2 separate regions of the Homo sapiens genome follow, and region 2 is linked to region 1. Evidence: fine-mapped expression QTL. Tissue or cell type: aorta. Region 1 holds a variant in brackets; the other region holds the start of a gene. All regions are shown on one strand. Distances are between the middles of the regions.

Region 1 (8,106 bases):
AATCCAGCCGCCTCTCCTACATGTTTCAACCAGTACAGGCTGCTTTCCTTCCTTTTTGAACTCCTGTTCCAGTTGGGGTTGGAACACATAATCTGGCACCCAATTTCATGTTGTTTTACAGTGCACCTGAACTTCATGAAAAGCATGAATCTAAAATCCAAATTATATACATTTATATTCTAAATCTTGCCATGTATTTTACTTTCCATTTCTACAATTAACCTACCAACAATGAATTACGAGCTGCTTGCTAATTGTGTGTAAGCCATATTTTAGCTCCCTAATTAGACCAGAAGTTCTCTAGTGGCAGAGGCCACGTACTGTCTCCCACAAACCCAGCATGGTAGCACAGACTCAAATGCCTTTCTCTGCTAATGGCTTTTCTCTCCAACGTCATGACCTTTTTTCTGAAAGAAGAATGACATCTCATTGCCGAGTGGCAAAACTACTTACTTTCTTTAAGAAGCAAGTAACAGTCTGGCCGGCCTGGTACTGTTTAATCTTCTCCATGGGGCTAACAGAGTGAGTGTTAAGAGCAGTGTGGCCATCCTCCAGCTCACTGTTTGCAGAAAGGAAATGTAAACAGTAAACCCATCTCTGGATAAGACTTCCAGTTTGAAACCATCTCTCCCAAGTGGCCACGGATTGACTGTACGGGACTCCCCTACTCATACTCACCCTCCAAGGCCGTTTCTCTCCTCAAAGGGGAATGTCCACAATACTGGCCCGAGGCTAATCTTTTCCGTTTCATTCATCTACTTATGAACAAGCTGCTTTTAAAGCAGGTAGCCCACAATAGGCTTTATAAACTCAGGAAACAAAATTGTTTTACTTCTTTCATAATACTTTGGCTGTTGCTTTACTTTGCAAAACTGCATTCAAAAATTATCTCTCACTGAATTTGACAACTGTGTGAGTTCAGCAGGGGAGATATTAAGCCCATTTTATGCTACTGAACCAGGAGTTAAAATCAGGGCTTCTGACTCAAAATCCAGGGCTCTCTGCCCTATGCTACCCTTCCATTAGCATTTTCTTGATTTTTTTTTTTAATAAAATGAGCATTCATTTATTCAAGTAATTTTTTTTTCTTTTTTTTGAGACAGAGTCTTGCTTTGTCACCCAGGCTGGAGTGCAGTGGCACAATCTCGGGTCACTGCAACTTCCACCCCCCAGGTTCAAGTGATTCTCATGTCTCAGCCTCCCAAAAACTGAGATTACAGGCACCCGCCACCACACCCAGCTAATTTCTTTGTATTTTTAGTAGAGACAAGGTTTCACCATGTTGGCCAGGCTGGTCTCGAACTCCTGACCTCAAGTGATCCACTGGCCTTGGCCTCCCAGAGTGCTGAGATTATGGATGTCAGCCACGGCACTCAGCCTTTGATTTTCTTTTTTCTTCTCAGAAAAACCACAAAGGGATGTAGCCTGAAAGTTATCAGTCCACAATCACCTCAAAGGAATCACAAAACTGCCACCCCTACTTACCAATTCAAATAATTTCTAAGCCCAAATGAACCAAACTGGTACAAGTAATGTTAGTAAATTTGTAAAATACAATAGCAAGTGCTCCCAAATGTAGAAAATGGGAACTTTCCTATCTAGTAAAGTAAGAATTGCCCCAGCACTTTGGGAGGCCAAGGCGGGTGGATCACCTAAGGTCAGGAGTTTGAGAACAGCCTGGCCAACATGATGAAACCCCGTCTCTACTAAAAATACAAAAAATTAGCTGGGCGTGGTCGTGGGCGCTTGTAATCCCAGCTATTCGGGAGGCTGAGGCAGGAGAATCACTTCAACCCAGGAGGTAGAGGTTGCAGTGAGCTGAGATTGTGCCATTGCACTCTAGCCTGGGCAATAAGAGCGAAACTCCATTTAAAAAAAAAAAAGAGAGCAAAAGGACTTGAGTAGACATTTCTCCAAAGAAGATATACCAATGGCCAAGAAGCAAATGAAAAGATGCTCAACATCACCAATTATCACAAAAAGCAAATTAAAGGCACAATGAGATATCACCTTACCCCGGCAGGATGGCCACTATTAAAAAAAAAAAAAAAAGAAAATAACGAGTGTTGGCGAGGATGTAGAGAAATAGAAACCTTTGTGCACAGTTGATGAGAATGTAAAATGGTACAGCGATTATGGAAAACAGTATGGAAGTTTCTCAAAATATTAAAAATAGAATTACCATACGATCCAGTGATCCCACTTATAGGTATATACTCAAAAGAACTGAAATCAGGATCACAAAGAGGTATTTGCACACTCATGTTCAATGCAGCACTATTCACAATAGCCAAGAGGCACAAGCAACCTAAATGTCCGTTGACCAATGGGTGGATAAACAAAATGTGGCATATACCTATAATGGAATATTATTCAGCCTTGAAAAGACTGGATATGCCAGACACAGTGGCTCATGCCTATAATCTCAGCACTTTGGGAGGCCGAGGCAGGCAGATTGCCTGAGCTCAGAAGTTTGAGACCAGCCTGGGCAACAAGGCAAAACCCAGTCTTTACAAAAAAAATTCAAAAATTAGCTAGGCATGTTGGTGCGTGCCTGTAGCCCCAGCTACTCGGGGGACTGAGGGAGGGGGATCACTTGAGCCCAGAACGTCAAGGCTGTAGTCAGCCATGATCACGCCACTGCACTCCAGCCTGGGTGACAGAGCAAGACCCTGTCTCTAAAAAAAGAAAAAAGAAAAGAAAAGACAGGACATTCTGACACATGCTGCAAAATGGATAAACCTTGAAGACATCACACTAAGTGAAATAAGCCAGTCACAAAAGGACGCATACTGTATGTGTTCCATTTATATGAGTGAGGTACCTAGAACAGTCAAATTCACTGAGACGGAAGGGGAAATGGTGGTTGCCGGGGCGGAAGAGAGGGAGAAGCAGAGTTGCTGTTCCATAGGTATAGTTTCAGTCACGCAAGACAAAAAACTTCTAGAGATTTGCTGTATAACATGCATTTAGTTAACAATGCATGTTGTTTCAGGTAATGTATACCTGAAAATTGTTGAGGGTAAATGTATGTGTTATAGTAATTTTAAAAATTACAGTAATTTTTTACTGTAAAAAATTACTCATCTGTGATGAGGACACAGATACACATAAAAGGAAGACCATGTGAAGACATGGGGAGAAGATGGCCATCTGTAAGCCAGGGAGAGAGGCCTTAGAAGAAACAAAACCTGTCAACACCTTGATCTCAGACTTCTAGCCTCCAAAATTGTGAGAAAAGAAATTTCTGTTATTTCAACCAAACCAAACCAAACCAAACCCACCACATAAACGGATATGTGTTATCCTTTGTTCTTTTCCTGAAGTGATTTGAAACTTCCTCTCCAAAAAGAGCAACCCTCCAAAAAAGAAGGGTTGGCAGTACTGAATGGGGACCTATGAGAAAACTCACTGGCTAACAGGAATGCCAGAGACACCGTTTAAGACTCCTGAATGGCCTTGTCTCTTTCCTCTCAGCCCTCCAGAGGAGTAAGCAGGTAAGATGAATCTTAACCTTGAGTGCCCCTCAACACCTCTGAACTCAGCTCTAGAACAGACAGCATTCTCTTTGTGAAC[G/A]AGATCCCCATACGAAATGAGGAATAAAAATACAGCTATAATTCCTCCGTTAAGTCAAAACTGTCAGTTAAATGTTTTTCATCCTGACTTCAAAATATTTATTTTAAAACATAAGCATGAGAAATATCACTATGTTTCTCAAGAGCCTTGAGATTAAAACAAGTCACAGTACAACAAAGGTCCATGGAGGAAGTGGAAGATGTCTGGCCATCTGTCTGGGAGTGTGTCTGGCCATCTGTCTATCTGTTATTATAACTCTACATCTCCCACCTCCTTAACAAATCCACTCAATTCCTGTCATGGCCCACTCTGCTACAGCCAAGTACCCCCACTCTGGCTCATACCATAGTCTTCCAACACCAGCAGTGTTAATGAGGGGTTCCTCAGTACTCCTAGGATCAAAAACCATTTAGGATCTCAGTGTTCCCACAGAGTTCACTGACTCATCCCCCATATATCTGTTAAATTAAGATATCTACCCTTAGTTTGAATAAACTACTTAACCTCAACCCTAATTAAGGGTTTAATTAAAACAAGACATCACATGTCAGAGTTGAAGATACTGCAGGCTGAAACCATTAATATGAAGAGGTTTCTTCATTTTTCCAACAAAGACTGGAGGATAAATACAATCAAAATCTACAAAACTAAGAAACCACAGTTAACAAATAGGAATGTAATTCATCCCCCAAATCTTATTATTCTGAAATTTTAGTTTAGGGCTTACTTTGAAGTTCCAAAAGTGTTATTAGCATCTGAAACTCAATGTGCCAGGAATATTTACTTTGTGTTTTTTTTTTTTCTTTTGAGACGGCTTTCGCTCTTGTTGCCCAGGCTGAAGCACAATGGCGAGATTTTGACTTACTCCAACCTCCGTCTCCCAAATTTAAGCAATTCTCCTGCCTCAGCCTTCCAAGTAGCTCGGATTACAAGCGCCCGCCACCACACCCGGCTAATTTTGTATTTTTAGTAGAGATGGGGTTTCGCCATGTTGGTCAGGCTAGTCTGGAACTCCTGACCTGAAGTGATTCATCTGCCTCAGCCTCCAAAAGTGCTGGGATTACAGGCGTGAGCCACTGTGCCTGGCTCTGGAAGTTACTTTGGAGACCGTTCTGTAAATCTCTAGGTGCATTAAGATTTACAACCTGGCTGGATCCCAGGACTGAGCCACAGAGCCTTTCTTAATTAAGGTCATACACACCTAGCTTCATTCACTAAGGGTCTATCAATCTGAGAGGCTGGGTTCTTTTAGAGAACTCCTCGTTCTCCTCCCCACAGAGTATCTCATGGAACACCCTTCTCTTCAGAATCTACCCCACCATGACCTGAAATTCCTATTCAGCCTCCAGCCCACCACACAGTCGTCTAGGTTGAAATAACAGGTATTCTTGGATACATGTTGCTTATTTAGGGAATTACTGAGTTATAGAAAATTGGGTTGAGAGCAAAAATGTTTCTTTTTGTGACATGCTGACAAACAGAACTGAAACCAGGCTTTAAATTGATACTTAAAACCTGTACACAGCTTTTGCATTAATTTTCATATGATCCCTCCAGCCCTAGGAGAACCAAATATCCCCACTAGAGAAACAAGAAAACTTGGACAGAGAAAGGCAAAAATCAATCCTAACACTGGTAAAATCAAGATTCGAATTCGGGATTCCTAATTCCAAAGCCCAGTGCTCTTTCCGTAAGACAGTGCTGCTAATGTCCCCCTCACCTTGGCCGAACACTCAGCTCCGGGATGGTTCGAACGAATCTGGGGTGACTTATTGGGAGATACCTGGAGAAACAAATAAGCTGAATCATTTCTCTTCATCTCTGTAACACAGTAATCTGTAGGTCAGGATTTCTCCCTACTCTCCACCAAACCAAGCTCACAAAAGCACCCTGTTCCACTGTCACACCACCACTGAAGACAGATGTGTCAGGCTGAAGGTTTCCATTCCCAACCTTTGCAGTTATTAGTAAGGAGCAGGCTCATCTGAATTTTTTTTTTTTCTGGGACAAGGTCTCACTCTGTCACCCAAGCTGGAATGCAGTGGCGCAATCATGGCTCACTGTAGCCTCAATCTCCTGGGCTCAAGCAATCCTCCCAGCTCAGCCTCCCAAGTAGCTGGGACTATAGGTGTATGCCACCATGCCCAGCTAATTTTTATTTTTATTTATTTATTTTTTTTTTTGTAGAGATGGGGTCTCACCATGTTGCCCAGGCAGGTCTTGAACTCCTGGGCTCAGGTTTTCCACCTCCCTCATCGTCCCAAAGTGCTGGGATTACAGGGTTCAGCCACTACACCCAGCCTCACCTGATTTTTTTTTTTTTTTTGAAACGGAGTCTCACTCTCTTGCCCAGGCTAGAGTGCAATGGCACAATCTCAGCTCACTGCAACCTCTGCCTCCTGAGTTCAAGTGATTCTCCTGCCTCAGCTTCCCGAGTAGCTGGGACTACAGGCACTGTGCCCGGCTAATTTTTGTTTTTTCAGTAGACGGGGTTTCACCATGTTGGCCAGGCTAGTCTTGAACTCCTGATCTCAGGTGATCCACCCACCTCAGCCTCCCAAAAGTGCTGGAATTACAGGCGTGAGCCACCGTGCCTGGCCTGATCTTTTAGGATTGTCATATCAGATCCTGAAAACAATTTTCCTTACAGTCTATATACTCCAATTCTTTCATTCTAAAAATAAGGAAACTGAGGTCTTTATTTAGAGGATAATTGACTTACTGAAGACCCCACAGTTAGCTACTGAAATTAATATGCAAATTATTGGCCAGACTTTGAATTCTTTTTTTGCTGTTCTTGTTATAGCAAGAATTTCTGCTACAGTAACATGTGGCACTAGATTTAAAGTAAATGAGGATAATTAAAGTGGGAGGTGGAGAATGACAACTGCAGATGTATACAGCGCAGTAACTGAGGCCAGCAACCCACTAGGCAAAGAACAGACTACACGTTCTCTCTTTCAGTCTTCACCATGGCCCTACAAAGTAGTCGCTACCATGACTCTCACGTTACAAATTAAGAAAATAAAATTTGGACTTAAGTAGCTACTGCCACATGGTCACAGTTAATCTAGAATTCAAACCCGGGTCTGACTCCAAACCCATGTTCTTAACAACCACACCATATATTCCATATTTTTAAAAAGAATAATGCACTGTAATCCCAGCACTTTGGGAGGTGGAGGTGAGCAAATCACAAGGTCAGGAGATTGAGACCATCCTGGCTAACACAGTGAAACCCCATCTCTATTAAAAACACAAAAAGTTAGCCGGGCGTGGTGGTGGGTGCCTGTAGTCCCAGCTACTTGGGAGGCTGAGGCAGGAGAAGGGTGTGAACCCAGGAGGCAGAGCTTGCAGTGAGGCGAGATCACACCACTGCACTTCAGCCTGGGCAACAGAGTGAGACTCCGTCTCAAAAAAAAGAAAAAAAAAAGAATCTTGCAAAATAATTCTTTGGTGAATGCCTTTTGTTAACTAAAAGAGAATCTGACTTACATGCAACTTTTTGGAGCCCACCTACTTTCCCAGTCCTCCCACAACAACAACAATCTCCCTCGAAGCCAGCCCACCCCCAGAGCCTCCATACTTGAATGTCTTCATGTCTCGCCCGCCAATCACTCGGGCAGTGACCGTCTTCCCAACCTTCAGCTTGGTAGTAGGAGAGGTGCCCTCTGGAACATCATCTAGAATGTGGGAGGCATGGATACAGCCAATAATGCCATCTTCCAGAGTCACAACCACATGGGTAGGCTTAATGGACTTGACAGTCCCTGTGACCATGTCCCCGATGGAGAGGGTGTGCTTCTTTATGGTCCCTACAGTCAGAGCTGGATCCACTTCTTCATCCTCATCAACTGTCTCAGAGTCCTTCTGGGTCGGCCTCATGGTCCTCTTGGCAGCCGGCCCCTCCACAGCCAAAAGAAGGCCAGTCACTCCTGGTTCTGTGGTCTTGAGGGTTAGGGAGACACCCTGTCCCACCTGCAATTTCTCTGAGTCAAAGCGGAAGGTGTCGTTGAGGTGAGAGGTCAGGGAGAAAGCTGCCAGGTGGCCCGTCTCTACCAAGGAGGCAATGGCAAAGGACTTCTCCAAGTGCTGCACAATCGCCTGGTGTTCGCTGCCTTTCCTCAGCTAGAAGAGAGAAAAGCCACCATCCCTGCTTTCCTTACACAGCATGGTCACTCACTCATGGCCCCACTGGGCAGGGTGTGGCTGAGGAAACCCTCTGGGGTCCCAAGGCTAGGGAACTCAAGGCTGGTCTGAGCTGGAACAGACTAGCCTTCACTCCCTGGACCTAGCTTTCCTCTCCTGTACACTAAACTCATGGGGCTGCCTCTGAATTACCTTGGCTTGGTTTTTGCTTTGCTTTGAATTTAAATTGCAAGACCCTATCCTAGATCTAGTAAATCTGAATTTTACAAGTTATTGAGATAATTCTGATGCACAGCCTTGCAACCTCTAACAGCTCTCTCAGCTTAGAGACACTGTGGTTCCTGAATCTGTCCTGCAGCTCCCCCACCCCCAATTAATCAC
Region 2 (5,131 bases), 24 kb before region 1:
GGCAGTACTCCCCTAGGCAGATCCACACTCCCTAGCACTCGCCTGCCCATTGGAGGCAGGAAATTTGGAGCTGGAAGGGGATCTGATGCCTTCAGGTGTGACACTGCCCTGGATGGCCCTAGGGCAGTGGGCCCATGAGCAGTATTAGTCTAAAGGGGTCGGAACTGTCATGGCAGGTACAGGGACCAATGGCTCCCCTCTGCCCAGCCCTTCCCAGGCTGATGTTCACTGTCTCCTCCCAGGTTCAACAGACATCCCTGCCCCAGGGTCCACCCTCGTCTGTGGCTGTTCAGTACCTCTCTTCCTTTATGCTCCGGGCTCGGGGAGTGGGAATCATCAGGCGTCTCATGAAGTGGGAGCCCTCTGATTTGGGCAAGCGTGTCGTAGGTGAGACTGGGTGTGCCGGGGCAGGTCCATAAGGACATGACACACAGCCTACCTGGTGTGACACACCTGGGGTGACAGGCGATGAGACAAGATGTCAGAAGCTAGGTTCACATGGAAGAGGTCAGAGTGTGTGGTCACCATGGGGGTCATGTGACAATTGTCCAGGTGGACTGCATGTTTATTTAGCACAAACCAAGCACAAAAGTCCTCCTGTAGAGGGGTCTTTGAAAAACCACCTTAATACCCCCGTCACATCCAGGTCTCCAGGGGAAATCAGACCATCCCCAAGGCTTGAGAAGTTAGACACAGAAGCTGAAGTCTCTCCATTTTTCTCAAAGACCCCACCTCTTGGGGATGGAGTTCTAAGAGGCTAAGAGGAGCTCCAAGGCTCTAGCCCAGGTGGGATGAGGGTGGAGGAGAGCAGTGTAAAGAGAAAGCAGCTCAGATTCCAGAGTGAGACAGAACTGGGTCAAATGGTGTCTCTACCACTCACAAACCCTGTCCCTGGGCCAGCTGCATCACTGCCTGTGCCTTCGTTTCTTCATCTATACAATGAGGATGAGGCCCCCCCGGCCCGCCATCATGGGGTTGCTGTGTGTAAAAGCACATGGCACATAGTAGGCACCCAGCACAGGGTGGCTAATGTATTTGTTGATTTCTGAACCTAAGGACTTCCTTCCTCCTCCCCTGGGCAGGGATGAGACAGCAACACAAACACTCGAGCTTCCATCTTGTTGAGGAGGAAACAGAGGTACAGATAGGTTTCTCAGCACCGCCCTCAGCTCTGAGACATAAGTCCCAAGCATCTAAGGATTCATTTTGATCTTGGCATGATTCCATCCTTTTTTATCCATCCTTCCCTCTATTCCCACTTCTGGGGTCCAGTTTCCCTCCTCTTAATTATTTGGGAGGAGTTGCTCAGATCTTTGTGGGCCAAGGTGGGCTGGGAGGGCTCTTCCAGGAGGTAGGAGTTGGTATGGGCCCTGAAGTCAGGGAGGATTAGGATGAGCAAAAAACAAGGTGTATGTTGGTGGGTGGCAGCACTTCCAGTGGGAAGAGAAGGCCCGGAGGTATCAGGAGGTACAAATGTGATGAAGAGCAAAGCTTTGGGTCAGGCACACCTGAGTTCAAATACCAGCACTGCAGGACTTGTGGCCAGTCACCCAGCCACTCTAAGCCTCAGTGTGTCTGTCTATAAAATGGATATTAGAAGACCTGCTTGGCCAGGCGGAGTGGCTCATGCCTGTAATCCCAGCACTTGGGAGGCCAAGGAGGGAGGATCACTTGAGCCTGGGAGTTGGAGACCAGCCTGGGCAACATAGCAAGACTCTGTCTCTGTAAAGTAATAATAATAATAAGAAGAAGAAGAAGAATAAAGAGAAGATTTATAATTTTTTTAAAATGAAAAAATTATTTTTTAAAAAAGACCTGATTTTCAGGATTGTGGTAAGGATAGAGGAAGATAACTTTTAGGGAAGGATCTGGGACTGTGTTTAGCACATGCTGGGATCTGAAACAAACAAATAAACAAGCAGAACTTGGTACCTTTTCTTTCCTTCGTACATATGGTCAAGCCCAGCTCAGGGAGGCCAGCGGGTCACTCGGCAGCTCCACCATGACGGAACCACGAGCACTGCAGAGCTGACAGATGTCGGGGGTCCTCTCCCTCCATGCTAAGGGTCATCTAGCCTGTCCGTAGACTCTCCTGTGCAGCATTCCTGACCCGTGACGCTTCAGCCCGCATCTTGACCACTTTTAGATACAGGCTGGGCAGCTCTGATTATTACACAGGGCTTCCTTCAGAAACCTGCCTCCTTGTAACTTTCACCCACCAGTTGGAGCTCTGCCTGCAGGACCCGGAGAATCCCTAGGCTCCTGAATTCAATCCTCAGCCCTCCAGGGATCCGAAGCAGGTCCCGGGGAGTTAGCTGACTATAGGTCAAAGAGTCAGCATTGGGGATGGTTTGTCCAGTCAATGGACAACTCTGAGGGAGAAGGGCCAGTAGAGGGTGGGGCCCTGGCCCTGAGCATCCTGCAGGGCTCAGCGCGGGCCTGACGACACCCTCCCTTGACCCTCGCGGGGTCTCCTTTGGTAGCTTCTGCCCAGCGGGGGTCAAGTACGTGGGGTGCTCTTGAAACTGTCATGGGGGGCAGGTCTGGGTCAGATCTCCCCAATGCCTCCACATCCCCACGTGGCCCTCCCGACTGGTCCCATTGGTGTGGAGCATGGCCCGGTCCGGGTCTGGGCCGAGGGCGGAGGGCCAGCACGGCCCAGGGACGGCGAGCAGCGGGTCGGTGGGACGCGCAGCAGCTGCAGAACAGGCATCTCAACTTCCTCTCGGCTCCTCTCCTCTCGCGCCGCCCTCGGGGCCCGCCCTCCTCTGCCTGGTGGCGCCGGGAGGCTGTTTTTCCACTCACTGGCGCGCAGACTCCATCCCACTGTTTTCTTCTCTCTTTTCTGGAGTTAGATTAGTCTGAAGCCGCCACCAGCCCCAGGCCCCCGTGCAGAAGAAAAGCGGGAGGGAACGGCGGAGGCCGCCGCTGCCCTGCACCGCCCTCCTGGAGGCCACTTGGAGAGTCCGGCCCCGAGGAGGCCATGGCCACAAGTGCCCACAGCTGGCCCCAGGTAAGGAAGGGGCCCTCCCTGGGGTGTGCCAGGTGTCAGCGGAGCATGGTGGGGCCTGTCCCACGCTGCCCAGAGGGAGAGAGGCCCCTAGCTGAGGTTCCCTCCACCCGGTTGAACAGGGAGCAGTCCTGCCCCTCCCCGAGCCGCCAGTCTCCTGTCGTCACTGATGTTGGAGGAGGTCCCACTGGGGGTCTGGATGTGACCCATCCTTGGCCTGGGGGCAGTGGTCTCAGAAGATGGCCTGGCCCATCCTCTGCTCACCACCCACCCTGTGCAGGTATCTTGTACCCCACTTTGAGCCAGTTTATGAACCCAGGGCCTCCACAGGGAGCTAATTAGGAGCCTAGAAGCCAAGAAGGGAAAAGGATGGGGCAAAGGGGGCTGACTTTAACCCATTCTTCCCCAGCAGTGATGCAAACTGCCTTTCCCAGGAAGTTAGGCTGGAAGCTCCAGGCTGTGAAGTGGGGGAAGAATCAGACTCCTCCTCCTCCTCCTCCTCCTCCTCCTCCTCCTGTTGTTCCTCCTGGTCCTCCTCCTCCAGCTTCTCCTTTTCTTGGAGTCTGCATGGCCACATGGCTCTGCCTGAGCCCATCTGGCAGCCTTCCTTGGCAGGGACAGAAGGGGTGATCTAGAAGGGGTGATCCCTCCATGAAGCATGGAAGGGAACAGGGCTAGGTCTGTGTTTGGCGCTCACCCCATCCCTCCACTCCCTGGCTTCCTCTGGCCTGGGGAGTTTTGTTTTTCACCCTCCAGAGGGGGAGGACATGGGGCCACACCCTGGCCTGTCTCTCAGGCTTGTGTGGGTGGAGGCTGGGAAGGGAGTTGGGCTAAACTTCGCTGTTGCCCGAGGCCATGGCCACTTCCCGGCAGGTTGCCAGCGTCGCTACAGCCCAGACCAAGGCAGAATAATCTCCGGATGAGCTGGTGGCACCGCTGAGCCTTTGGTCTCACCAGGGCTTCCTGTTGCTGGCAGGCGGGGTGGAGCGGAGCTGCTGGGAGGCTGCTGGATAGGAGAGGGGTCACGGCTGCGGAAGAGGAGGTTCTTCGGGACACCCGTGGATGGACACGGCAAGGTCAGTAGGAGACAGAAAAAAAGAGGGTTCACTTAGTGCAGAATCACCCTTATCCACTTCCCAAGTCTCCTTAGGTTGTGGTTAGAGGTCCTGCTGTGGCACCTCTGTATTTCTTGGGCCTCAGCAAGGCACTTTATCCTCTTCAGGTCTCAGTTCCCTGATCTTTGCAGGCAGGAGAATCGTCCCCACCCCAAAGACAAGACAGGGTGGAAGAGATGGAGAGTTTCACGCAGAGCACAATCAGGCATCTTTTATTCTTTTCTTTCCCTCCAACATCCCTAGGAAAGAGCAAGGCTCAGGATGATTTATCCTCTTTTCACTGATGAGGAATCTGAGGCCCAGAGAACAGTCATGAAGTGTGATCAGACCCTGAGGTCTCCAAAAAGATAATGTCCTTGCGAACTCCAGGGATTCTGGCATCTTGCTGTACCCACCCCAGCCCACACGGCAGGATCCTATCCAAGTCCCTTATCCACCCGGACACTCACTTTAGCTTTTACACCCTCAAGGCTGAGACCCTAAGGACACGCCCTGGATCCAAGGAGTCCCTGGCCCCTCTGCTAATATGCGCCACCTGGACTCCCAGAGGGAAAGCCGGTCAGCACCCCACATGCATTAGCACCATGGGCCACCCCCAAGCCCTACCCCAGGAGAAGCTCGTGGTGGCAAAAAGAACCTAAGCATTTGAGGCAGGTCACCCAAGCTTGAATCTCAGTCTGCCTCTCATCTGTGACCCTGGCGAGCCACTCGTCCTCAGGAAGCCTTCACTTTCCCTAGTGCACGGCGGGCACACAGCTCAACGTGGGACTGTGAGGATGGGAAATGAGGGGTGCCATGCACCCTGGAGGAACTCAGTGAACAGTGGCAACTGTCACTTCCCTGGGGCCCTATGGTCCTTCCTTTCTCCCCAGCCTGTCCACACTAGCATCTTCCTCAACTCCTGGTTTTCAGAGGGAAACACTTATCGGTCATCTGCTCCACAGGAAACACCAGGCCAACCACAGCTGGGGATAAAATAGCACAACCACACCCTGCCGTCCAGCGC

Direction of the effects. Alleles are on the strand shown, and positions count from the first base shown. SD is a standard deviation of normalised expression in the study named.
For the expression in aorta of the gene that starts at base 2,799 in region 2, A is the low allele of the variant in region 1 and G is the other (large effect, 0.89 SD a copy in GTEx).

Evidence for each region. PIP is the estimated chance that this variant, and not a neighbour inherited with it, causes the effect.
Region 2: it holds the start of CALHM2, and the variant in region 1 is fine-mapped to the expression of CALHM2 in aorta (GTEx, PIP 0.98).

The regions. Positions count from the first base shown.
Region 1 is chr10:103,424,582-103,432,687 of GRCh38, reverse strand. PDCD11 (programmed cell death 11) reads right to left here. Exons shown (of 36, transcript NM_014976.2): 20 at 7,163-7,704; 21 at 5,297-5,359; 22 at 454-559. Among named protein-coding and RNA genes, the nearest start is that of CALHM2, 24 kb to the left of the region's middle. The variant G/A (reference allele first, on the strand shown) is at 3,577.
Region 2 is chr10:103,450,038-103,455,168 of GRCh38, reverse strand. CALHM2 (calcium homeostasis modulator family member 2) reads left to right here and starts at 2,799. Exons shown (of 4, transcript NM_015916.5): 1 at 2,799-3,013; 2 at 3,884-4,086; 3 at 5,070-5,131. It overlaps CALHM1 (calcium homeostasis modulator 1), which reads left to right. Exons shown (of 2, transcript NM_001001412.4): 2 at 1-1,929. LOC124902494 (a long non-coding RNA gene) reads right to left here and starts at 2,726. Exons shown (of 2, transcript XR_007062275.1): 1 at 1,933-2,726. RefSeq lists a silencer at 2,398-2,727 and enhancers at 2,566-3,187, 3,188-3,808, 3,757-4,126.